Regions from separate parts of the Homo sapiens genome. Here all the other regions are linked to region 3. Evidence: fine-mapped QTL for protein levels in blood plasma. A gene starts in region 3. Each other region holds a variant in brackets. All regions are shown on one strand. Distances are between the middles of the regions.

Region 1 (8,182 bases), 11 kb before region 3:
CCTGCAGATGCACAGAAGTCAAGAGCTGAGGTTTGGGAACCTCCACCTAGATTTCTGAAGATGTATGGAAATGCCTGGATGCCCAGGCAAAGGTTTGCTGTAGGAGTGGGGCCTTCTTGGAGAACTTTTGCTGGGGCAGTGCAGAAGGGAAATGTGGGGTTGGAGCCCCCACACATAGTCCCTACTAGGGCACTGCCTAGTGGAGCTGTGAGAAGAGGGCCACTGTCCTACAGACCCCAGAATGGTAGATCCACCAACAGCTTGCACTGTTGTGTGCCTGGAAAAGCTGCAGACACTCAGCGTCAGCCCATGAAAGTACCCAGGAGGGAGGCTGTACTCTACAAAGCCACAGGGACAGAGCTGCCCAAGACCATGAGAACCTACCTCTTGTATCAGTGTGATCTGGATGTGAGACCTGAAGTCAAAGGAGATCATTTTGGAGCTTTAAAATTTGACTGCCTGGCTGGATTTTGGACTTGCATGGGCCCTGTAACCCCTTTCTTTTGGTCAATTTCTCCCATTTGGAACAGCTGTATCTACCAAATACCTATACCCCCATTGTATCTAGGAAGTAACTAGCTTGGTTTTACAGGCTCATAGGCAAAAGGGACTTGCCTTGTCTCAGATGGGACTTCATACTGTCAACTTTTGGGTTAATGCTGAAATGAGTTAAGACTTTGGGGGACTGTTTGGAAGGCATGATTGGTTTTGAAATTCAAGGACATGAGATTTAGAGGGGGCAGTGGCAGAATAATAAGATTCAGCTGTGTTCCCTTTGAAATCTCAACTTGAATTGTATCTCCCAGAATTCCCATGTGTTGTGGGAGGGACCCAGGGGAAGGTAATTGAATCATGGGGGATGGTCTTTCCCATGCTATTCTCACGGTAGTTAATAAGTTTCATGAGATGTGATGGGTTTATCAGGGATTTTGGCTTTTGCTTCTTCCCCATTTTCTCTTACTGCTACCATGTAAGAAGTGCCTTTTGCCTCCTGTCATGATTCTGAGGCCTCCCCAGCCATGTGGAACTGTAAGTCCAATTAAACCTCTTTTTCTTCCCAGTCTCGGGTATGTCTTTATCAGCAGCATGAAAACAAACTAATACACCAGGCATAAGAATGACACAGTGGACTCTGGGGACTCAGGGGGAAAGCGTTGGGAGGGGGTGAGGGATAAAAGAGTACAAATTGGGTTCAGTGTATACTGCTTGTGAGATGGGTGCACCAAAATCTCACAAATCACCACTAAAAAACTTATTCATGTAACCAAATACCACCGGTTTTCCAAAAATCTATAGAAATAAAAAAAAACTAAAAATCCTTTGTTGTGTTTCTAACTACTAATATGTAACATATTTTTGTGCCCCACAATGATTACAGTTAATAATCAGCACAGAGGAACTCTTAAAGGACATATTTTGCCTCTAGATCAAGCCTAATGCCCTTCTGTAGGCAGCTGGGAGGTTTTGTAGCTGTTCCTTAAACAACATCTTTCTTACCTTACCATGAAGTCATTAGCTATTGACACCTTAGAAATTAGAGCTGAGAAAGTCTTTAGACCTATTAAATGAGAGTGACCTGTTTTATGTGAGCACATATTCACCATCTCTCTCTAGCCTTTGAATTACTCACCCTTTGTCTCACACCTCCCTGGAAGTATCTGTTCCCTTTCTTTCTCTCCTTTTCTGTGGTCCTCTCTGCTTCTTGAAGCCAAACCAGGTCAGGCTGTGAACTGAAGAGGTACCAAGATTTCCCCTGTGCAGCTTTCTGCTGGACTCTTCCTAGAAGCATGCATCAGTTACTGCCAGATTTAGTTTTGGATTGTGGTATCACTTTTCATCTTTTTCCACCAGAGTAAGAAAAAAATACTGTATTTTCTCTACTAGAATGGGAGAGCTGGGCCTAACTTTAGCAAACGAGTACTTGTTGAAATGAAACACTTCAACAAACTTGAGGGAAGTCACTAAAGAAGTCAGTTTCCTCATCTTTATTTCAGGTGATAATAATGGCTACTCCTTATTGAGGACTATCGAGATCAGATGGGGCTGGGAGCAGTGGCTCATGCCTGTAATCCCAGGACTTTGGGAGGCCAACACAGGAGGATTGCTTGAGTCCAGGAGTTCAGGACCACCCTGAGCAAAATAGCAAGATGCTGTCTCTGCAAAAATAAATAAACAAACAAACAAATAAATAAAATAATTTTAAAAAGATCTAATATAGTAATAATACACAGTGAAGGGCTTTGACAATGATATTGTGCTATGCAGATTCATAGTATGATTATAAATCAGGTAGACAGATAAACTTGATGAAACAGGAAGGAAAAACTCTTCATACATCAGACTGGTCTTCCTGGATAAGGTTGCCACATGCTATCTCAATGGAGTCACAGATGCTTCTGAAAACTGGAAATATGAGTCTTGCAACCAAATCTGGGAAAGACATGAGCCTAAATCAGCCTGATCACTGCAAAATATGAAATCACATCACTGCTAAATATGGAAATTTGTCACAACATTTTGTTAGTGTAAGTTCTAAGCCTAAGACAAATTAAGTTGTTGAATTTATTCAGATAATTGTTTTAAAGGGAGAGTGAAACAGGTTTCTGGCCCCTTTTTTGTTTTCAGATCATTTACATTGAAAGAAGGGGGAACATGTTACTAAATCAAACCTGCCCCATGGGCAGGAGTCTAATTCTCTATCCCTCCCTTTGTCACACTCAGATGACACCGTCCTTCTGTAGGGTTTGTCTCCGCCATGTTTGAAATGGTGTACAAGTTCTCAGGATGAGCTGGTTATGGGATGCCTATACTGTTTTTCCTCTTCCAGTGCCCCAGTGGAATTTCTTCCCCTTGGTCATTCGGGAGCGGCAGCCTGTGTTATCTCAGAGTTTTCCAAGTGGTGACCCCAAAGGACTCCAGAGCAGGGCCTGGCTTGGGGTAGGGAGAATAGAGGACATTGGGCTAGAAGGGGGAGATGTAGGGATTCATGAGGCCATTAAATTAGCAACATATTGCCAGGCACAGTGGCTATAATCTCAGTGCTTTGGGAGGCCAAAGCAGGAGGATCACCTGAGTCCAGGAGTTCAAGACAAGTCTGGGCAACAAAATGAGACCCTGTCTCTACAAAAAAAACTTTAAACTTAGCTGGGTGTGATGGTGTGTGCCTGCAGTCCTAACTATTTGGGAGGCTGAGGTGGAAGAATCACAGGAGCCCAGGAATTCAAGGCTGCAGTGAGCCATAATTGTGCCACTGCATGCTGGCCTAGGTGATAGAGTGAGACCCTGTCTCTAAAAAATATTTATTTATTTATTTATTTAGAGATGGAGTCTTTCCAGGCTGGAGTGCAGTGGTGTGATCTTGGCTGACTGCAATCACTTCCTCTCAGGTTTAAGTGATTCTCAAGACTCAGCCTCCCAAGTAGCTGGGTTACAGGGGCTCACCACCATCCCTACCAGCCAATTTTTGTGTTTTTATTAAAGAGAAAGTTTTTCCATGTTGGCCAGGCCGGTCTCAAACTCCTGGCCTCAAGTGATCTCCCTGCCTCAGCCTCCCAAAGCGCAGGGATTACAGGCATGAGCCACCGTACCATGCCTAAAAAATATTTTAAAAGAAAAAATAAAAATTAGTAATATTTATTGTAAACAAATGTACAATTCATTTTCAAATGACCGTAGATAGCATTGTGGTAAATAAAATGCAACTGTATTTAAAGGCATTACCAATCCCATGTACTATTGTGCCACTTTTTGTTTTCTTTTTTCTTTTTTTGATAGAGTCTCACTTTGCTGCCCAGGCTGGGGTGCAGTGGTGCAATCTCGGCTCAGTGCAACCTCTGTCTCCTGGGTTCAAGCGATTCTCCTGCCTCAGCCTCCCACGTAGCTGGGAATACAGGTGCCCACCACCAGGCCAGGCTAATTTTTGTATTTTCAGTAGAGACGGGGTTTCACTATGTTTGCCAGGCTGGTTTCTAACTCCTGACTTCAGGTGATCCACCTGCCTCGGCTTCCCAAAGTGTTGGGATTACAGGCATGAGCCACCGCACCCGGCCGTGTGGCACTTTTTGATAACATAGGTTAAGTGAATACATTTTTTTGAATCAATGACCTGTTTTGGACTCTGGCCCATCGTTCACTAGCTGTCTGGTTTTGAGTGATCTTTTATTTTCTCCTCTCCATAATGTGAATAATAACAGTACCTGTCTCCTAAGCGTGATTCAAGGATTACATGAGATTATCCACACAAATTCCAAGGAGTAATAGCTCAAGTGGTAGCTGCTGTCACTCTTACCATCACATTGTTTCTCAGTCACAGTTTGTGATTGAGTGCTGCGACGGGCAGGTCTGCACAGAGTGTGGATGTTGTAAGAGGATCCTCATCCTTGGCAAGGTTGACAGCCCCTGGTCTGGATGAAGCCTAAGGTGAAACCTTGAATGTTCCCCCGCAAACCTCTTTGTTGACCTTATCCGTAGCTTTCTTCCAGCACAGGCAATTACATTATAGGTTCTCTCCCTTCTGGGAACAGCGCTCTCCTTCTGGGAGAATAGTTGCTCCTCCTCCAAACCCAGCTGCATGTTTCAGAGGCCTGGGCCATTCATCATAGAATCCTGCTCTTTGGCCATGGTTGACAAATCCAATGGCAGGAATG[C/T]GACTCAAGACCAACCTATCATATCTCTCCCTGGGATTGTTCGCACTTCTGCTTGGCTTGGAACTGGTGACACCCGTGTTTCCCACGAAGTAGAGAAAATTAGTCCGAGAAAACAAAGTACAAATGCGGAGAAAAGCTGAGGTGATACAAAACCAAGCATGATGGTGACATTCATGTTCCTTAATCTATGAGACTGGGTGGTCGTATTAATCATGTGCTTTTATTTTTTCAACTCATGCTGTTTTGATACCTTTGGGAACCTGATAAATTCAGGGAGAGACAGACCTCCCTGGGTTAGCTAATTCCTAAAGATGACACAGTATGTTTGGGATCACGCCTGTCACATGTAAACCAACCATTCCCTTTATCTAACTCTCACATACCAAGCCAGTATTAACCCTTACCCTAAATCTACCTGGAGACAGGACCAGACAGCCACACCACGTGCCCCAGAGCCTGCTGGAATTATTAAAACCAGCACATCCGAGACCATATTCTCCATCCAGCCTCAACTTTCCCTCGGAAACGATGATAAGGGCTCTGGCCTAGGTGTTCCCTCGCTCCTGCTTTCACCACCTGACCCAAACCTCATGTTTCTCCTGCTGAAGCCCTGTGTGCTGTGGCATGCTCCTTCTCTTTGGAAAGGTGAGTACAGTCATGCCTGGGTATTTAAGGAGGATTAGTTCCAGGACCTCCATGGGTACTCAAATTTGCAGATGCTCAAGTCTCCTCTGTAAAATGGCATGGTATTTGCATATAACCTATGCACATCTTCCTGTATACTTTAAGTCATCTCTAGATTACTTACAATACCTAATACAACATAAGTGCTATGTAAGTCATTGTTATAGTGTATTATTTATTTGCATTATTTTTCATGGTTTTTTTTAAATTTTTTAAAAAATATTTTTGATCTGCAGTTGATTGAATCCACAAATGTGAAACCTGTAGATACGGGGGTGTGGGGAGGAGGTAACTGTAGTAAATTATTTTTTCAATGGCACCAGCCTCTTTGTGTCATCATTCAGTCACGTTCATGAGTTAAAATCCCACAGGTACGTTTTGGGACAGTTGAGCAGCCGGCAAGGTGACTCAGTGTTCCATAAGGACCGTGCCTCCTTCTGCTCTTGGCTCGTTAGCTGACTGTGCCAACCACATATACTGTATTATCTTTAGGAATTAGCTAATCCAGGGAGGAATTAGCTCTACTTGGGAGGGCATTGCCGGCCGGTGGGGTGCCTGTGCTTTGGCTGCCATTGCCTTGTGCTACCTCTGCTGTGCCCTTTCACAGTTTTCTAGTCTAAACTGTGGCAAGGGAAGGACCTCAGATCTTGCTTTGCACAGGTAGTAGTACCATTGGGAGTGAGAGAGGTCCCCAGTGCACACCTTACTGGACCAAGTGACCAGGCAGATGTGAGGTTAAGCAGGCAATTTGGGTAATTAGTACAGTAAACGCTTTCTGGAGAGAGGAGGAGCAGGGAGTGGCTGCCCCTAGGGTGCTTTGAGGGCACCGAGACTGATGACCTGCCTGCCAAGACCGTAGACAGGGCTCACCATAGAGAATTCAGGAGCTGGGCATTCAGGCCCAGGCACAACTCCCTTCTTGTAACAAATCTTCTCTTACTCTGGTGGACAAAGTCCTGGACAAGTGAGGTCCTCCTTGAACAGTCCATCACAGGTTGACATTGACTGTTGGGCCCCTGAGCATTGGGACTCTATGAAGATACTCACCCATTTGATTCCAAATTTAGACAGGCCCATCTCTAATGGTTGGCGGCGAGGTGTAGGGTGTCTCCCCATGGAAAACTGTGACTCCTAGAAACCTTAAATATTGCTATATGGGCAAATCTCTTTGTTGTTACTGGCCTTGCTGCTATTGTGACCTGAGCCCATGACCCTCTATACTCATTATGTTTTGGGTCATAGGTACAGTACCCACAAGCTTCACACAGCTACTGAGGGCATCTTAGACAGGATGGAGCCAATACTGGGTCCTTGGGCATATTCTATCTCTATAGGGTTGTAGCTTTGTTCATTCTCAGTCACCTGGTAGATGTCATTGTGCTACAGGAGATTATAGGTCTCAGAAAACTGGTGTTGTTGAGATACAAAATGGCCTCCTCAAACAACTTCTTTTAAAATTTCAGGCCATCAGATAAACACCTAAATGAGTTTCTTTTTTGCCCAGGACTTAAGGTGTCTTTATAAAAATTCCATCTTGCCTCCATCACGTAAGGGGAGGAGGCCAAATGTAGGGCCCAAACTCTACAGGGATCAATTACCATAAATTGTCCCAAGGGCTAGGCAGATATGAGACTGATTTCTTCTATCATAATTGAAGCTACCTGGTGTCATCCTGCACACCATTCTGTTGACTTTTGATTTTATTACTCTTGGTCTGTGCCTTCCCAACAAAGCTCATATAGAGGCATGGTCCCCAATGTAATGATGTTGAGAGGCATTACAGGCATTTGGGTCAGGAGGGATCTGTCTTCATTAAAAGATTAATGTTGTCTTGTGGGAATGACTTCTCACTCTCATGAGAGTAGATTAGTTAACACAAGAGTGGGTTGTTATAAGGCTAGGTCCCATTTGTGTTTGGTTTCCTTTGCACATGCCTGTTCACTGCTCTCACAGGCATTCTCACCACTTGATGCTATCCACCATGCTATGTTGCAGCATGAAGCCCTTCCCAGATGCAGCTGCCCAATCTTAAACTTCCCACCATCCAGAACAGTGAGTCGAATAAACTCCTTTTCTTTATAATTACTTGGTCTCAAGTATTCAGTTATAGCAACAGAAAATGTACTAAGAAGTCAGTCTGGGTTCTTTCATTAATTTATGATCCAATGGCTCACACCCTCCTAATAAGCCATTGCTTTAACCAAACATGGCCAATGGTAAGACTCACATCAACTCCACTGGGTACTTAGTTGGGAAAGATATGGCCTTCCAAATGGACATGGCCCTTACTCAGAAGTTTATCACAAAAATAACACCACCCCAGACAACATCACCTCTTAATTTGATGTCAAAATGTCGGAGTGATGAGGTATCACCACTACAGCAATCATCAAAGTGTGAGCCATAGACTCACCTGGTCAGGTCTAGGAAAAAGAGCCAAACCATGTTCATCTTATCTTCCCTTGAGTGCCTGATACTTCACCTTGCTGAGAGTGGTTACTGAATAATGACTGAAGAGATAACATCCCCTTTCCCCCACTGTTGAGCTGTGTTTGCATAATTGCAGGCTCTTGAGAAATTCTTGTCTGCCTCTGGTAGGCTAGATGTCCCAACTCAAAGCACCACAGCTTTCCCTCCAACATAGTCATTAACCTCTGTGTGGTCATGACTGATATCCTTGACGTTTCCCCTATTGTCTGCTAACTCCTCAAGGGTAAGGACCATTTTTCTTGACTGCACTTCCAGGCAATCATTAACACTGAGGGCCTGGACATAGTAGGTGCTTCATGCGTGCTTTTAGGATGAATGAAAAAATGACTGAGTGGTAGTAGAAATGAGGTCGCATTAGGGTC
Region 2 (8,182 bases), 13 kb after region 3:
CACTGTTCAAACTGCTTTCCCTGCATAAGCTCTTTCATCTTCACGACCACCCTATTGTCAAGACTGTCCAGGGAGTGTAAGGAGTTTTGTCACTTTCCAGGGTCACAGAGTTAGTAAGAGCAGAGCCTGGAACCTCCCCGGGCAGCTGTGCTCTCAAGCACTCATACTGGAGCAGAGGAGTCTGCCGGGGAGGCAGCCCCAGGCAGTGGAATGAGCAGAGCCCTGGGTTTCAAATTCATTCTGCCTCCCACTGTCTGGGGAGGCCTCAGACAGTCATTTCATTTCTCTGATTGTCTTAGCCTTCTTGTCTGTGCTTTGGGGGAATGTTATCACCACGGCAGAGTGCAGGGAGGATTCGGTGAGATGGTGTTTATGAAGCTCCTGACAACATTTCTGGGACATAGCCCAGTGCTCGGTTATTTATCCTTATTATTAGACCACGTTGCCAAAAATGGGTCAGCAGGTGGAAAAGCAGATATTGAAAAGGATCATCAAGAGACATTGACATCCTGGGCCAGGCACAGTGGCTCACGCCTGTAATCCCAGCACTTTGGAAGGTTGAGGCGGGCAGATAACCACAGGTCAGGAGTTTGAGACCAGCCTGTCCAACATAGTGAAACCCTGTCTCTACTAAAAATATAAAAAAAATTAGTCAGGCGTGGTGGTGGGTGCCTGTAATCCCAGCTACTCAGGAGGCTGAGGCAGGAGAATCACTTAGACCTGGGAGGTGGAAGTTGCAGTGAGCTGAGATCGCACCACTGCACTCCAGCCTGGGCAACAGAGTGAGACTCTGTCTCAAAAAAAAAAAAAAAGAGAGAGAGAGATTGACATGCTGAGGGGCAGGTGTCAGTAGTCAAATGCAAAGGCAAAACAGAGGCAGCGTCCAGGAGGGAGGACCACGTAGTACAATAGACATAAACATGCAAGAGGGAACAAGGCCAGGATGGCTGGGGGCATGGGAAGGGGCCATGCCAGGCAGCACCTCCCACTGTCAACTGCACACCCTCACCCACACTCTTGATTGTGGCATCTGTGTTTAGCCACTTTGTTGTGTGGAAGATGTTGTGGCCACCCCATCTTCTTTAGTACTCCTTTTTCTCTTCCCTCCCTCTGTCCCTAGCCTATGCCCATTTTTTTCCTAAGCCTTGCCTGGAAAAGTTGAGCAGACAACTGACATTTACTAAAAAGAAGCCAAGGTGGGACCCACTGGCTTCCCTACCCCAATACATGCACATCGTCAACCAGGGCCCTGCCCCTTTGAAAAGAGACATTGAGGCCAGGCACGGTGGCTCACACCTGTAATCCCAGCACTTTCAGAGGCAGAGCCGGGTGGATCACGAGGTCAGGAGATGGAGACCATCTTGGCTAACACAGTGAAACCCCATCTCTACTAAAAATACAAAAAGTTAGCTGGGCGTGGTGGTGGGCGCCTGTAGTCCCAGCTACTCGCGAGGCTGAAGGAGGAGAATCACTTGAACTGGGGAGGTGGAGGTTGCAGTGAGCCAAGATCACACCACTGCACTCCAGCCTGGACAATAGAGCAAGACTCCGTCTCAAAAAAAAAAAAAAAAGAGACATTGAAAGAAGGAAGGGAGGAAGGAAGAAAGAATGTATTCATTTTTTTTTTTTTAGAATTTGAAAGTAATGATTGTACATAACAACAAACCAACCAGAGAGCACAAACAAGTCAAAGGAAGAAAGAGCACAGGCCCGCCCATTCGAAGGCACCACCCTTCGCGCTTGGGCACAAATCCTCCTTAGACACATACACAAATCTTTTAATTGGATGGTAATATCACAGGCTGATATCTTTTCTTTCACTTAAAATATCACAAATCCAAAAAAAAAATCACGAATGCTGCAACATCTTTTCAAGTCGGAATCGTGTTTTGTGTGTGGATATATTGTAAGTTATGACAGGACCATCCCACTGCTGGAAAATCAGAATGTTGTCAATTGTTTGTTATTATAAACAACGCCGTTAAAACCCATCCTTGAAGAGAATTTGTTTTTTTAAATCATTCTCCAAGGTCCAAGATTTTGCTTTTGGAAATCAGGGGGTTTTGGGAATTTTTTTTTTTTTTGAGACAGGGTCTCACTCTGTCACCCAGCCTGGAGTGCAGCTGTGGCACTATCATAGCTCACTGCAGCTTCTAACTCCTGGGCTCAGGTGATCCTCCTGCCTCAGCCTCCTGAGTAGCTAGGACTACAGGCCTGCACCACCACATCTGGTTAATTTTTTTTATTTTTTGTAGAGATGGGGTCTCACTGTGTTGCCCAGGGTGGTCTCAAACTCCTGGCCTCAAGCAACCCTACCGCCTAGGCCTCCCAAAGAGCTGGGATTACAGGCATCAGATACTGTACCTGGCCAGAAAATAGTTTTTATTATTGAAGAAGTCAAACATTTATAAGTAAAGAGGACCAGAGTAATGAGTGCCAACGTATCCGTCATCCAGCTCAAACAACTGTCAGCTCGTGGCCCATCTTGTTGCATCTATGCGAGATCCTACTTATCCCCACTCCCTGGATTGTTTTGAAACAAATTCCAGACAGCATGTCATTTCATTCATGAGTATTTAACACGTATCTCTCAAAGATAAGGCAAGAGTACACATGTTTAAAACTTTTGGTATGGACTGCCAAACTGCCTGCCAAAAAATTCTGCAACAATTTCCATTCCCACCAACAGTATAAGAATGTGGCCATTTCTCCTCGGTCTTGTCAACCCCGGGTCAGTGTCCAGTTAAGAAGAGGTGAGGGAATGAGACAAAACTGAAATAGATAGTTCAACAGAGGTGATTAAAAATGGGAAACCAGGCTGGGTGTGGTGGCTCACCCCTGTAATCCCAGCTTTGGGAGGCCAAGGTGGGTGGATCACCTGAGGTCAGGTTTTCCAGATCAGCCTGGCCAACATGGTGAAACCCCGTCTCTACTAAAAATACAAACATTAGCTGGGCGTGGTGGCGGGCACCTGTAATCCTAGCTACTCGGGAAGCTGAGGCTGGAGAATCTCTTAAACCCGAGAGGTGGAGTTTAAGTGGGCCGAGACCATACCATTGCACTCCAGCCTGGGGGACAAGAGTGGAACTCCATCTCAAATAAATAAATTAATTAAATAAAAATAAAATGGAAAACCAGTTACAAAGATATTGGAAAAGCTAAAAGGGCAACCTGGGCACAATGGAGCAATCCAACAGCCAGAAGCTTCCCACGGGAAGCCCCATGGCTGGAATGACAAATGGTGGAGGCGGGGTTGCCAAAGCCCGGGGGCCAGGGCACCCAGCTGGAGCCAGGAAACTTTGGCAAGCCTGCAGCTGCAATGGAACCCTGGAGAGAGCAACCACTTCAGGGACACTGGAGTCACAGTGACTGCTGAAAATGCCACCAGAAACAGAGAGAAGCAATGTCTTGGCTTCTTCCCTTCCTCTGCTCCTACTGGCCACATCTCATCAGAAGCAATGAGCAGGGGAGCCTGGGAAATGAGTCTGCATCCACAGCCTCACCTCAACCCCATATAGACCAGTGGGGAGTGTGGGGCGATGGATCTGAGAGTCCGCAAGGCAGTGACGGGCACTCTGAGCATTGCTGCTTTAGTTTAGCTTGTTTAATGAATACGATCTTTTCTGGACGAAAATATTCTTTAAGTCATGAGGGAAGGCATGAGTGTAGACTACAGAGAGAGAAGCCACACTAGTGGGGAGAATGCAAATGAGGACAACCCATTTTCAGAAGAATCTGTCAATAGCTCTCTGAGTTTAAAATCACAATCCAGGCC[G/A]GGAGTGGTGGCTCATGCCTGTAATCTCAGCACTTTGGGAAGCTGAGGCGGGTGGATTGTTCTGAGCCCAGGAGTTTAAGACTATCCTGGGAAACATGGTGAAACCTCATCTCTACAAAAAGTACAAAAAATTAGCCAGGCATGGTGGCACACACCTGTAGTCCCATCTACTCAGGAGGGTGAGGCAAGAGGATTGCTTGAGCCCAGGAGTTAGAAGCTGCAGAGTAAGTTATGATTGTGCTGCCACTGCACTCCAGCCTGGGTGGCAGCACAAGACCCTGTCTCAAAAAATAAATAAATAATTTAAATTAATTATTAATTAAATTTTAAAAATAAAATCACAGTCATTTCCAGAGATTTATGCTACATATATTTGCACATCACAAAGATGTGTGTGTAAAGATGTTCATGATGACATTGTTTTTCTTCTGTTTTTTTTTTTTTAGCTTTTATTTTATTATTTACAGTACCAAAGACTGGAAGCAATGGATGTACTCACTCATAGGTACTGGCTAAAAAACATGAATGAGTTAGCTGGGATGATTTCTAAGCGAAATCTATGCTAAATAAATAAAGATTAAAAAGCTAGTGTGTTTCAGAGACTGAAAGCTCACAGTTGCCAAGTGTTTCTATATGTCCAGCACTGTGTTACGTACTCAGCGCACATGGTTTCATTTATGAACTACCATGATCCTATGAGGTAGGGATTTTTCCTTTTTAGAGGGGAAAACTGAGGCAGGACCAGAGTTTGAACACAGGCAACCTATCATTAAATTTTGTGCTCCTAAGTGCTAAGAGAAGGGAATGATTTAACAGGAATGTGTCAGATGCAATGAAAGTGGGCAGAGACCTACACCTAGCCTGGGACAGACAGAAGCCTTTTAAGAGATGACGCTTCAGAGGGTCATTAGACCATGTAAGGAGGAATGGGAAGGGTGCTGTAGGCAGAGGGCTAGCCTGGGCAAAGGCTTGGAGGTGAGGAAAAGCAAGGCTCCTGTGGAGAAACCAAGCAGAAGCAGTGCGGTGCTGCTGGGATGCAATGCCTGAGGATAGAATGGGGGAGCACAAAGATGAGAGTCTTAGCAGGTAGCAGGCACAACATACAGAGTGGCTGAGGAGTATTAATGGGGGGCCTGTTAGCAAGGATGCGGGCAGAGTTAAGGGAAACCAACAATGGGTTACGAGACACCTGGGCTAGCAACTGCAAGTCCAAGAGCCACCACCTCCCGTAGGCTAAAAGAGGCAAAGAGGGAGACCAGAACTCAAGAAAGAACGGTGGCTGTGGCTTTAACACTAGGGACCCCCTCCTGCTACCACCACCACACACCACTGGAGCTGGAGCTTCTGGTAGAGAAGCCTGCAGCTGGGTTGAAATGGAGGCAAGAGAGTAAATATCCCAGCTATTTTTCTCTCCTGCATTCTGACATCTTTCTCATGCCTCCCAATGGCCAAACCCATCCAGAAGGAAGAAGGCTCAGCTGAGGCAGTAGGTGGAGGTCAGCCTTCCAGGTCGGAGAAGGACGAGAAAGGTGGTGAGTGAGTCCAGAAAGGCAGGTGGAGGATACCCAGCACACGTGGTTAAGGAGTTGATATTTTATCCTATCCGTGTCCAGGCTCCATTGAGGGGTTTTAGGTATGGAGGCAACATGGTCAGATATGGATTTTAATAAAGACCTCTCTGGCAGCAATTCAGTAGACAGAGCTGTGGGCCATGAGGGATGAGCCTGGGAGACCAACTGAACCACGGAAATAAGGGCCAAGGTGGGAGATGGTAAGGCTGAAAAGGGCATAAGGTGGAAGGAGATAGAACTTACCCAGGTGAGAGATGAGAAGGAGCTGAAAAGGAAGTAACAGAAAGGACACAAATTAGATTCAACTTTGATTTTTTTGAAAAATTGAGAGGTCATAGTGAAGACAAAAGCCAGGCTTCATATTTGGATAATCAACTGAATTTTAGTGCCAATAACTGAGATTAAAAATAAAAATACAGGGCCGAGCGTGGTGGCTTATGCCTGTAATTCCAGCACTTTGGAAAGCCAAGGCAGGCAGATCTCTTCAGCTCACAAGTTTGAGACCAGCCTGGGCAACTTGGTGAAACCATGTCTCTACAAAAACAAACAAACAAACAAACAAACAAACAAACAAAATATATATACACACACACACACACACACACAGAAATTAGCCAGGGTTGGTGGCACATGCCAGTAGTCCCAGCTACTTGCAAAGCTGAGGTGGAAGGATGGCTTGAGCCCGGGAGGCAGAGGTTGCAGTCAGTCAAGATCATGTCACTGCACTCCAGAGCCTGGGCATCAGAGCCAGAGCTTGTCTCAAGATAAATAAATAAAAATAAAAATAAAATTTAAAAACTAAAATAAAAATACAAAAGTAGCAAAAAAACAGGTTTAAAGAATGGTGACTGATGAGTTTTGTTTGGGACAAGTTGGGTTTAAGTTGCTTATAGAACATCCAAGTGTAAATGTCTAGCAGGCATTCAATTTGAGTTCAAATATTGAGTGTTCTCTGTCTGGAGATTTGGATATTAAAGGCACCAGTAGGCCGGGCGCAGTGGCTCACTCCTGTAATCCCAGCACTTTAGGAGGCTGAGGCAGGCGGATCACCTGAGGTCAGGAGTTCCAGACTAGCCTGGCCAACATGATGAAACCCCGTCTCTACTAAAAATACAAACATTAGCTGGGCGAAGTGGCACATGCCTGTAATCCCAGCTACTCAGGAGGCTGAGGCAGTAGAATCGCTTGAACCTGGGAGGCAGAGGTTGCAGTAAGCCAAGATTGCACCATTGCACTCCAGCTTGGGTGACAAGAGTGAACCTCTGTCTCAAAAATAAATAAATAAAGCTACCAGTAGGTAAATTCTAGTTAAAACCCTGAGAGTAAATGAGATGTCCCAGGGAGAAGGAGCATCTAGAAAAGTGGGCGGGTTGTTTGGGGAGCACCAGCACTGAGAAGTGAAAGGAAGAAGAATCTACAAAGCTATAGACAAGGAATGAAAGATCTGAGAAGACAAGAAGAAAGAAGCTTCCTGGGAGCAGAGGCTGGAGTGATCAGTAGCATTAAATATGGTGGTAAATAAGAGACAAAGAGTATCTGCTTCTTAGGACTGTGAAAGGAAAATATCTTGGGCTCCCAAAAACACTAAGCTAAAAGGAAAATTCAAGCTGGAAACTGCTCCAGTCAAACCTGCCTCCCGTTCTATTCAAACTCATCCCTCTGCTCATTGAGATAGATGCATATTCTGATGGCCTCCTTTGGAAAGGCTTATCAGAAACCCAAAAGAAGGCAACCATTTGTCTGTCACCTACCTGTGACCTGGAAGCCCCCTCCCTGCTTTGAGTTGTCCCCGCCTTTCTGGACAGAACCAATGTACTTCTTACATATACTGATTGATGTCTCAAATCTCCCTAAAATGTATAAAACCAAGCTGTGCCCTGACCACCTTGGGTTCACGTCATCAGGACTTTCTGAGGCTGTGACATGGGTATGCATCCTCAAAGTTGCCAAAATGAACTTTCTAAATTAACTGAGACCTGTGTCAAATTTTGGGGGTTCACAGAACTTAGGAGGTTGTAGGTGACTTTAGAAAGAGCAGTTATGACTCTCTTGGTGGATGGATTGCTGTGGGGACTCTCTTGGTGGATGGATTACTGGGGGTTGAGGTGTGAAGTGAAGGTAAGGTAGGCATTGAGGATGTAGATTACTCTGTTTAGAAGTCTGGATGAGGAAGGAGAAAAGTAGGATGATACCTAGGAGGGACCGCCAGGCCAGTGGATGAGTTTTATGGTATTAGGGGAAGGTAGAGAGGGAGAAGCTGAGGATGCTGCAGAAGAGGGGAGATTGTTAATGAAGCCCAGACCTGGAGGGGCCAAGAGGGCACAGATCCAGGCTCTCTCTGTGCTCTTATTGCCTGATCACTTGTCCATCCTCTACATCCCTCTACTAGTCAGGGAGCTCCATATATGCTGTGCTGAGAGTGTTGCCTGGCACACAGCCATGGCATACTTGCTGAGTGAATGGATAAGTGATTCATACTTGCTGAGTGAATGGATAAGTGATTCATACTTGCTGAGTGAATGGATAAGTGATGGTTGAGTGGATGGTCAGGGATATAAACCCGGATAGAAGCAAAGTGTCTTTGGCAAAACTTCTGTAACTTGCACAAGATGGCCAAGGTCTAAAACATGACATCTCCAGCCAGATAATTGTCTGTAGTAAGGAAATCGTCAAGATTTACCTTACAGATACACACCCAATAAGCAAAACCTCCAAACACAGCAGGCTGAATGAAGACCTCTATGGTGAGGGTTGTTGGATTAGAATCAGTGATGCTGGAAACTGACAATCTTCATGTTTAAATCAATTGGGCACTTGAACAGGCCTGATTTTTATT
Region 3 (8,182 bases):
CCTTAGCCAGTGTGTTTTTACCAATTGTGTTCAGACTTCCTTTCACAATCCCAAAGAAAGTATTCATCATTTAAGTTTTGTGTGATCATGAGAAGAATAACATGATCCCAATCTAACCAGAACATGCCAGACAATTTCCAAATTAAGGACATTCTCAAAACACCTAACCAATTCTTCTGCAAACTGCCATAGTCATCAAAAACAAGCAACATCTGAGAAACAGCCATAGCCAAGAAGAACCCAAAAAGTCACGATCACTAAATGCAACCTGGTGTCATGTTGGGATCCTGGACAGAAAAAGAACATTAGGAGCTGAAAATTTAATTCTACACCAAACCTGCACATGCATGTTTATAGCAGCTCTATTCATCACTGTCAAAATTTAGAGGCATCCAAAATGTCCTAGATGAATGAACAAATGAACTCGGGTACATCCAATCAATGGAATTTTAGTAGTAGGTGAATGAATAAAGGGACTTGGATATATCCAATCTTTGGAATTTTATCAGCACTTAAGAGAAATGTGCTATCAAGTTATGAAAAACATAGAGAAACCTTAAGTGCATATTACTAGGTAAAAAAGTCAATATAAAAGGTTACATATTGTGTGATTCCAACTATTTGAAATTCTTAAAAAGATAAAACTGAGGAGACAGCAAAAGGATGAGCATTGCCTGGGGTTGTAGGGGATGGAGTGGTAAGTAGGCAGAACACAGAGAATTTTTAGGGCAGCTAAACTATTCTGTATGATACCATAGTGGTGGGTACCGTCATTATACCTTTCTTAGTTAATTGATATTATGCATGTCATTATACATTTCTCAAAACCCAAAGAATGTACAGCACTTAGAGTGAACCTAATGGAAATGATGGACATTGGGTGATAATGACATGTTAATGTAGGTTTATTACTTACAGCAAATGTACTACCCTGGTTCATGATGTTGAAGGTAGGGGAGACTGTGCCTGCGTGTGGGGAGGGGTATATGGGACTTTTGATACTTTCCACTCAATTGTGCTATGAGCATAAAACTACTCTAAAAAATAAAGTCTGTCAATAATAATAATAATAATAATAAAAACTAGAACAACAGGTAAATCCTAAGCAAGTCTGAATAAAGTATGGACTTCAATTGACAATAATGTATCAATGTTTGTCAGTTGTGACAAACGTACCATAGTAATGTAACAGGTAAATAGGGAACCCAGGTGAGAATTGGAATGATAACTATCTTTGCAATTCTCTGTAAACCTAAAATTATTCTAAAACTTTAAAAAAAAATTTAAAGGGAAGGTATGAAGGGGCAAAGAGAGGAGAATTCCACAATTTATCAGTGTATGCGTACACTGCCTCATTTGTGTTTAGAATGATAGCAGCGGCCTCCAGATAATTCTTCTCTAATTGTGTGTCAGACACTGTGCTTAGTCCCCCTAAGCCTTGCCTCCACATCTGTCCCATGAGGACCTGGGCCGACTTTCCTCCTGGGGTTCTTGTGCAATGGGCCTTTATGTACTCATCCCCAAGAATTACAGAGCCCCTCAGTGCTGGGAGCATGGGGAGGTGGAGGGGCCTGAAGTTACTGGAACCTGCTATGCACTGCGTGGCTGGGGCTCCATGTCCTCTGCAGTCTCCCCAGAGCCACTGGAAAAGGACATCGTTTCCTTAGTTCATGGAGATACGAAGAAAGCTTGGGAAACAGCCTTAGCACAGTGCCTGGCACGCTGTAAGCTCATTGGAGGAAGTGTGCCATTTCTCCCCGTGGACATTCTTAAAGATGTGGGTGGCATGCAGGGCGTCAGGAGCCAATGACACCAACAGAGAGGGGCTCGCATTGGAGCCTGGCCTTGAAGGATGAGGCGGTGTGTGCCAGGCAGAGAAGGAAGGGAAGGGGATCCCAAGTGCAGGGAACAGCAGAGGCAAAGGCAGGAAGTGGGCGCATGCATGGAGTATCTGCAAATGGTGGGACAGGGTTTCAGTGTGGCCAGATTGCAGTGTGTGTGTGCATGTGTGTGTGTGTCTGTCTCTGTGTGTGTGTCAGTGTCACTGTGTGTGATTCTGTGTGTGTGTGCCTATGAGTATGTGTGTGAATGTGTCTAGGTGTCAGTATGTGTGTGTCTCTGTGTGTCTATGAGTGTGGTGTCTTTGAGTGTGTTTGTGTGTGTTTGAGTGTGTCAGTGTGTGTTTGTGTGTGTCTTTGTATGTGTGTCAGTGTGTATGTGTATTTATGTGTCTGCGTGTGAGTACCTGGAAATGAGGTTGGAAGGGCAGGATGAGCCAAGGAGGTGACTGCCCCACAGCCTGCTCTGATGCTGTGCTGCTGAGTCTAGAAGGGAAAGAGCAAAGCAGACGCTGGGATGGGAGTCACAGGAAGGGGAAGGGCCACAAGGAGCCAGTGGGGAATGTGCAGTGTTACCTGGCAAAGCTCAGAGAAGCACTTCCCAGAAAGACCCCGGAGTCCACATGTTTCCTTGTAAATATGTTTTGTGTTCCAACTGCAATCTGCCTCCAGAAAGAATCTGCCTGCCTCCCAAGGATCAAGTAGAATTTTCCATTTTGTAGGAGACTCCCCTTGTTGAGCAAAGCAGCTTTGCCTTGCCTATGTCCAAATAATCCTCCAAAATACCGCATGAGAGAGCCTGTTCGTGGAGGTCAGGGCCTCAGCGGGGTGTTTGTGAGGATAGTGAGGACGGACCCCTGGGTGAGGCAATTTTAGGAGAGAGGCACACAGCTTCAGAAATGGCTTCTTCCAACAGATTCATGCAGAGACTGAGCCTCTGAGTAAATTGGTCAACATCTATAGCTATGACCACGGAATTCTCAAACAGGTGGATCGTTCATAAAATCCAAACACAGTTACAAGTTTTGGCCTGCATAGTGTTGAGCTACAGCTTTATTTTTAGAAAATTTTAATTAGCTGCCAACCAATTTCATATAAACACATCTGGATTTGGGGATGTCATTTTAAAAATCAGACAGTGTGACAATACTGAGCCTAATCCCTGCATTTTCTCAGTCAATTGGAGATGAGTGTTGACCTCTATGGAGGCAGAGACTCTCTAGTTTGCCACAGTCCCCATCACTCCCTATTGCCTTATCTCAAACCCAAAAGTCAGTTGCCATTTAATATCACACTAAACAATAGTTTTCTTATGGCTGAATTAAGGAAAAGTGAACAATTTCTTCTTCTGAAAATCTATGAAAGGTGAGGTGATAATATATAATGAGGGCCACATCTTCCCTGTAGAAGTGAGTTTCTTTTTAAATGCTGCATATGTAAATAACAAATGTCTGTTTTCAAAGTATACAACTTAAGACCCTGTCATGAGGCAAAACGATTCTGCTCCACTTTATGTTAACAGCTTAGCCCAGTAAAAATTTAGTATGCAGCTATAAAGGAGACGTTGTTATTGTCAGCACACTGCAAATGGATGATGGGAGAGGCTAAGTGGTTTGGGCATAGCACTCAGCTAAACACATGCTGTGGCCAGGATTCCACCTGGGTCATTCTGGTGTGGGACTGTGCCTGTAGCAGGCAGGGCAGCCTGAGCTCTCTGAATGAGACCTGAAGGTAAGTATTTACAACAGTAATCTTATATTAAAAATTCCCTCTTTACCAGCCTCTCAGAGCCTGGTAGAATTCCCTGATAAAAAAGAGGGAATTTTTAATGTAAATTTCCCTGCCTCTAGAATTAGGGTATCCTCTGCTTATGTAGTAACTTCAGATGGAAAAAGGAACTCAGACACTACGAAAACTTCGGCAACTTCAGTCACCCATTCAACAAAGATTTATTGAGAGTGGCAGGCAGGAAGAGATCAGACCATGGATGTAGAGAATCTCACTTTTAATTTTGAGATGTTCCTTTTCCTGCCTCTGTGAACTTGGACAAGCTCTTACATATCTCCAGAACCAATTCCTGCTTTTGTAAAAGGGGAGGAATCATTGCACTCCCTACTAGAGCGGATGTGATGAGGGAAAAGGAGAACTCAGGTAAAATGGGCTCAGTAGTTTGGCAGCTCGGATCATGTCATTATAGTTATTTTACTCCTCCATAGACATCACTGCTGGGGTCCTCTCCCCATCAAGGAGGGTCACTGTGAGGCTGAGTTGTCCTCCTATCCTGGCCACAGGGTGGACAGGGAAGGGCCTAGAGGAAGCGTTTGATGGCATGCAGGTAACCCCCCTTTTCACTGGATTACATCCAGCACTTTCCCTGCAGGAACCGGCTCCCTCGGAGGGGCGTGGCTGGGAGGAGCTGTGAGTAACGTGCCACAGTGTTGTAAAAACCCAGTGAGTGTTATAAAAACCCAGTCAGCCTGGCTCCTGTTGAATAGTCTACCCCCCTTGCACTCTACCTGACACAGCTGCAGCCTGCAATTCACTCGCACTGCCTGGGATTGCACTGGATCCGTGTGCTCAGAACAAGGTAAGAGCCTCGCTCCTTTAACAGCTTTATTACCTGCTGCCACTTCTCACTCCACCAAGGGCCTGGAGTTCCTTGGGCCTGCATTCCATCATGGGCAGGTGGGGGCTGAGCCCCAGGGCCGTGAGAAATGACTGGGTGTTTTTCTGGCATATCCAGTCTCCTCTTCACCATTTATTGCTGTTCTCTGCCCTTTTGTGATTGTCTTTCTCCTTCTTAACCCTAGAAGATGGCCAACTTCTAGGGTAGAAATCAGATCAGGACCATTTCCTGGGTCTGCCTCTTTTTATAAAAAATTCTGTGTTTTGTTTTAAATGGAGCACAAATAATACAAATCATCTTATCATTATGTGTTATATGAAACTAAATTGTCATTGTTCATAGTTGTTTTTCTTATTCTTTGGCAATGTTTTTAAAGGGCAGAGTAAATGTGAAAAGCAAAAAGTGATCAACCAGGGGTGACAGAAAGGAATAAGGAGATTGATCTGGCTACCCATACCAGCTTTGAACTTGCCCACTATGAGATCCTGAGCAATTTACTTACCTGTCTGAGCCTTAAGAGTCAGAGCTGTCACCTGGGATGACATATTAATAGCTACCTGGAAGAGCTCTTGTGTGGATTTCACAAGGTGGGAATCAAACCCTAGACCAGTACTTAGCACACAGGAGGTGTCATATAGAAACTGACTTCTCTTCTTCTGTTAAGCATGGGTTTTTATTGTACACATGATCAGATTCATGCAGTTCAGTGTGACGTTGGTGTTCATCCTATTGATTCAATGATTTCTCATGATCCTTGTCTTCGATCTTGTAGTGTGAACTATCTGGTTGAAATTCACCTCTCTCCACCCTGATTCACTTTGCCCAGGCAAATCAGACAACCACCCCACCTCACACCTTTCCTTAAACTCTTACTTCCCCACAAAAAGCTCCCCCACCCCCACAACCCCACCCACCCCACCCAAACCCCAGGCATGTTCAACTCTGGGTCAACATCACCTTTCATGATGCTTACCACATCCTTTCTCATTTTGGGCATCTGTCATGTCTTTTCTCATTTTGGGCATCTGTGTCCATATGGAGTCATGAGATAGAAATCCAGCCCTTTGGAGCTGAAAGTTTGGAGCAGTAACTTGTTTCATATCAGAAACAGAGATGACGGGATAGATTCCCTGATCAATGCTATTTAAATTCTCCCAAAGAGTGGTCTCTAAGCTCTTTCAAATCTGAGGCTTTCTCAATCATGGTGATTTCTTCAACACCTAGTCTGGTGGGGGGCATATAGTAGGTGCTCAGTAAATGCTTGTTGAATGAGTGAATGAAAGAGTGAGGAGTGAGCAGATGCAGGAGTTAATGAGTGAATAAATGATAAATGAGAGTTCGTGAGGCTCCAAAGAGTGGTACTTTTGTGACACTCAAGACTCAAGTCAAGTGGAAATGTGAGTAGACAGGCTGTTTGTCTAGTGACTCCAGGAGCCAGAAGCGTTCTTGGTCTACTCTGAAATCATGTAGGCACCTGTCAGGGTAGGGGGAGGCCAGCGTGTAGTCCTGCACAGCTGAACTGCTGCCTGCCACTGACTCACTTGCCTTTTGTCAAACAGGTGAACGCCCAGCTGCAGCCATGAAGATCTGTAGCCTCACCCTGCTCTCCTTCCTCCTACTGGCTGCTCAGGTGCTCCTGGTGGAGGGGAAAAAAAAAGTGAAGAATGGACTTCACAGCAAAGTGGTCTCAGAACAAAAGGACACTCTGGGCAACACCCAGATTAAGCAGAAAAGCAGGCCCGGGAACAAAGGCAAGTTTGTCACCAAAGACCAAGCCAACTGCAGATGGGCTGCTACTGAGCAGGAGGAGGGCATCTCTCTCAAGGTTGAGTGCACTCAATTGGACCATGAATTTTCCTGTGTCTTTGCTGGCAATCCAACCTCATGCCTAAAGCTCAAGGATGAGAGAGTCTATTGGAAACAAGTTGCCCGGAATCTGCGCTCACAGAAAGACATCTGTAGATATTCCAAGACAGCTGTGAAAACCAGAGTGTGCAGAAAGGATTTTCCAGAATCCAGTCTTAAGCTAGTCAGCTCCACTCTATTTGGGAACACAAAGCCCAGGAAGGAGAAAACAGAGATGTCCCCCAGGGAGCACATCAAAGGCAAAGAGACCACCCCCTCTAGCCTAGCAGTGACCCAGACCATGGCCACCAAAGCTCCCGAGTGTGTGGAGGACCCAGATATGGCAAACCAGAGGAAGACTGCCCTGGAGTTCTGTGGAGAGACTTGGAGCTCTCTCTGCACATTCTTCCTCAGCATAGTGCAGGACACGTCATGCTAATGAGGTCAAAAGAGAACGGGTTCCCTTAAGAGATGTCATGTCGTAAGTCCCTCTGTATACTTTAAAGCTCTCTACAGTCCCCCCAAAATATGAACTTTTGTGCTTAGTGAGTGCAACGAAATATTTAAACAAGTTTTGTATTTTTTGCTTTTGTGTTTTGGAATTTGCCTTATTTTTCTTGGATGCGATGTTCAGAGGCTGTTTCCTGCAGCATGTATTTCCATGGCCCACACAGCTATGTGTTTGAGCAGCGAAGAGTCTTTGAGCTGAATGAGCCAGAGTGATAATTTCAGTGCAACGAACTTTCTGCTGAATTAATGGTAATAAAACTCTGGGTGTTTTTCAGAAATACATTCAAACATTGCTTGGTTTTCTCTGTGTCTGGTCCCAAATAAACTCATTAAGTAGTCCCCATATATCAATGGAAAAACAATCTAAACAGGAACTTCCAGTTCCCCACCCTTCGCAAGTTATCTCTTTCTGGAATCCTTCTTTATAATTGTATCCATTGGTCAGTGGTGTTTGGTGTTTATTGAAGTATAATAACTAGGATCCCTGTTTTCAGGTGGGACACCTGGTATATAATGTGATTAAATCATTTGTCAGGGACTCATAGATGGTAAGAGGGCCGGTAGGATTGGAACCCAGGAGCTCTGACAGCTGAGTCTACAGGGTTGAGGAACCTCCGCTACTGATTCATGTCAGAGCTGCCCATTCCCTCCCCCACCCGAAAGACCCCGGCCTTGCAAAGCTCAATTCTGGAGAAGAAATGAGTTTCATTCCTTCATTCTTCATTCTTGGAGAAGAAAGGCCTAGTTAAGTACAGTGGCCCAAGATAAGGGCTATAAAGGAAGGGGGAGAGGGCTACAAGGAAAACCAGAGAGAGAAGGCAGAAACTGCTGTAAGATCTGGGCTTGAGTGTAACAGGGGAGGGAATAGTGGAGCTGGATTTTGGAAAGAGTATCTGTGGGAATAAAATGGGGCAAAGTGGAGGCACTTTAGGCATTTGATAACATGAATGAAAGTGAATAGATGGGAAGTTTCAGATTCTGGGAGAGGTCAGGTGTCTGGGATCGGATGGGATGCAGCGATGAGACTGCCATTATTCATTTATATGTTAGTATGAAGGATCTGAAAGTTGTATTTTAAGAGTGGGGGAGAGAGGATGAACTGTCTCCAATGCCTTGTCACAATTCCACAACCAGGGAAAGGAGGAGCAGAAGCTGACGAAAGCACTGTTCTTTAGCATGTCTGATGGTGGCAGGGAGGAATGGCAGGTGGGGGGGAAGGAAAGCCTTTTACATTCACCAACCTACTGGGATGCACACTGAGGACGTCAGAGGCCAATCCACAGTGCCACAGCCTCAGAGTGACATTTGGATGTCATCATGATCATCAATAAAAAGAGCACTTATCTCTTACCTGCTATGAGCA

Which allele goes with the higher level. Positions count from the first base shown, and alleles are read on the strand shown. Strength reflects both the effect of a copy and how common the allele is.
For the plasma level of the protein whose gene starts at base 3,936 in region 3, allele C in region 1 goes with a higher level than allele T (moderate association).
For the plasma level of the protein whose gene starts at base 3,936 in region 3, A is the low allele of the variant in region 2 and G is the other (moderate association).

Evidence for each region. A credible set is the group of variants that fine-mapping cannot tell apart. PIP is the chance, under the fine-mapping model, that this variant and not a neighbour inherited with it causes the effect. Protein levels are from antibody-based Olink assays in UK Biobank. Linkage for the fine-mapping came from a reference panel and not from the study's own genotypes, which makes the PIPs less certain.
Region 1: its variant is the best candidate, but not a certain one, in a credible set for the plasma level of the FGFBP1 protein (UK Biobank, PIP 0.62).
Region 2: its variant is the best candidate, but not a certain one, in a credible set for the plasma level of the FGFBP1 protein (UK Biobank, PIP 0.88).

What each region holds. Positions count from the first base shown.
Region 1 is chr4:15,945,451-15,953,632 of GRCh38, reverse strand. No RefSeq gene overlaps it. Among named protein-coding and RNA genes, the nearest start is that of FGFBP1, 11 kb to the right of the region's middle. The variant C/T (reference allele first, on the strand shown) is at 4,647.
Region 2 is chr4:15,921,115-15,929,296 of GRCh38, reverse strand. No RefSeq gene overlaps it. Among named protein-coding and RNA genes, the nearest start is that of FGFBP1, 14 kb to the left of the region's middle. The variant G/A (reference allele first, on the strand shown) is at 3,776.
Region 3 is chr4:15,934,494-15,942,675 of GRCh38, reverse strand. It overlaps FGFBP1 (fibroblast growth factor binding protein 1), which reads left to right and starts at 3,936. Exons shown (of 3, transcript NM_005130.5): 1 at 3,936-3,989; 2 at 4,205-4,425; 3 at 6,024-7,099. The coding sequence starts at 6,044. The coding sequence ends at 6,748.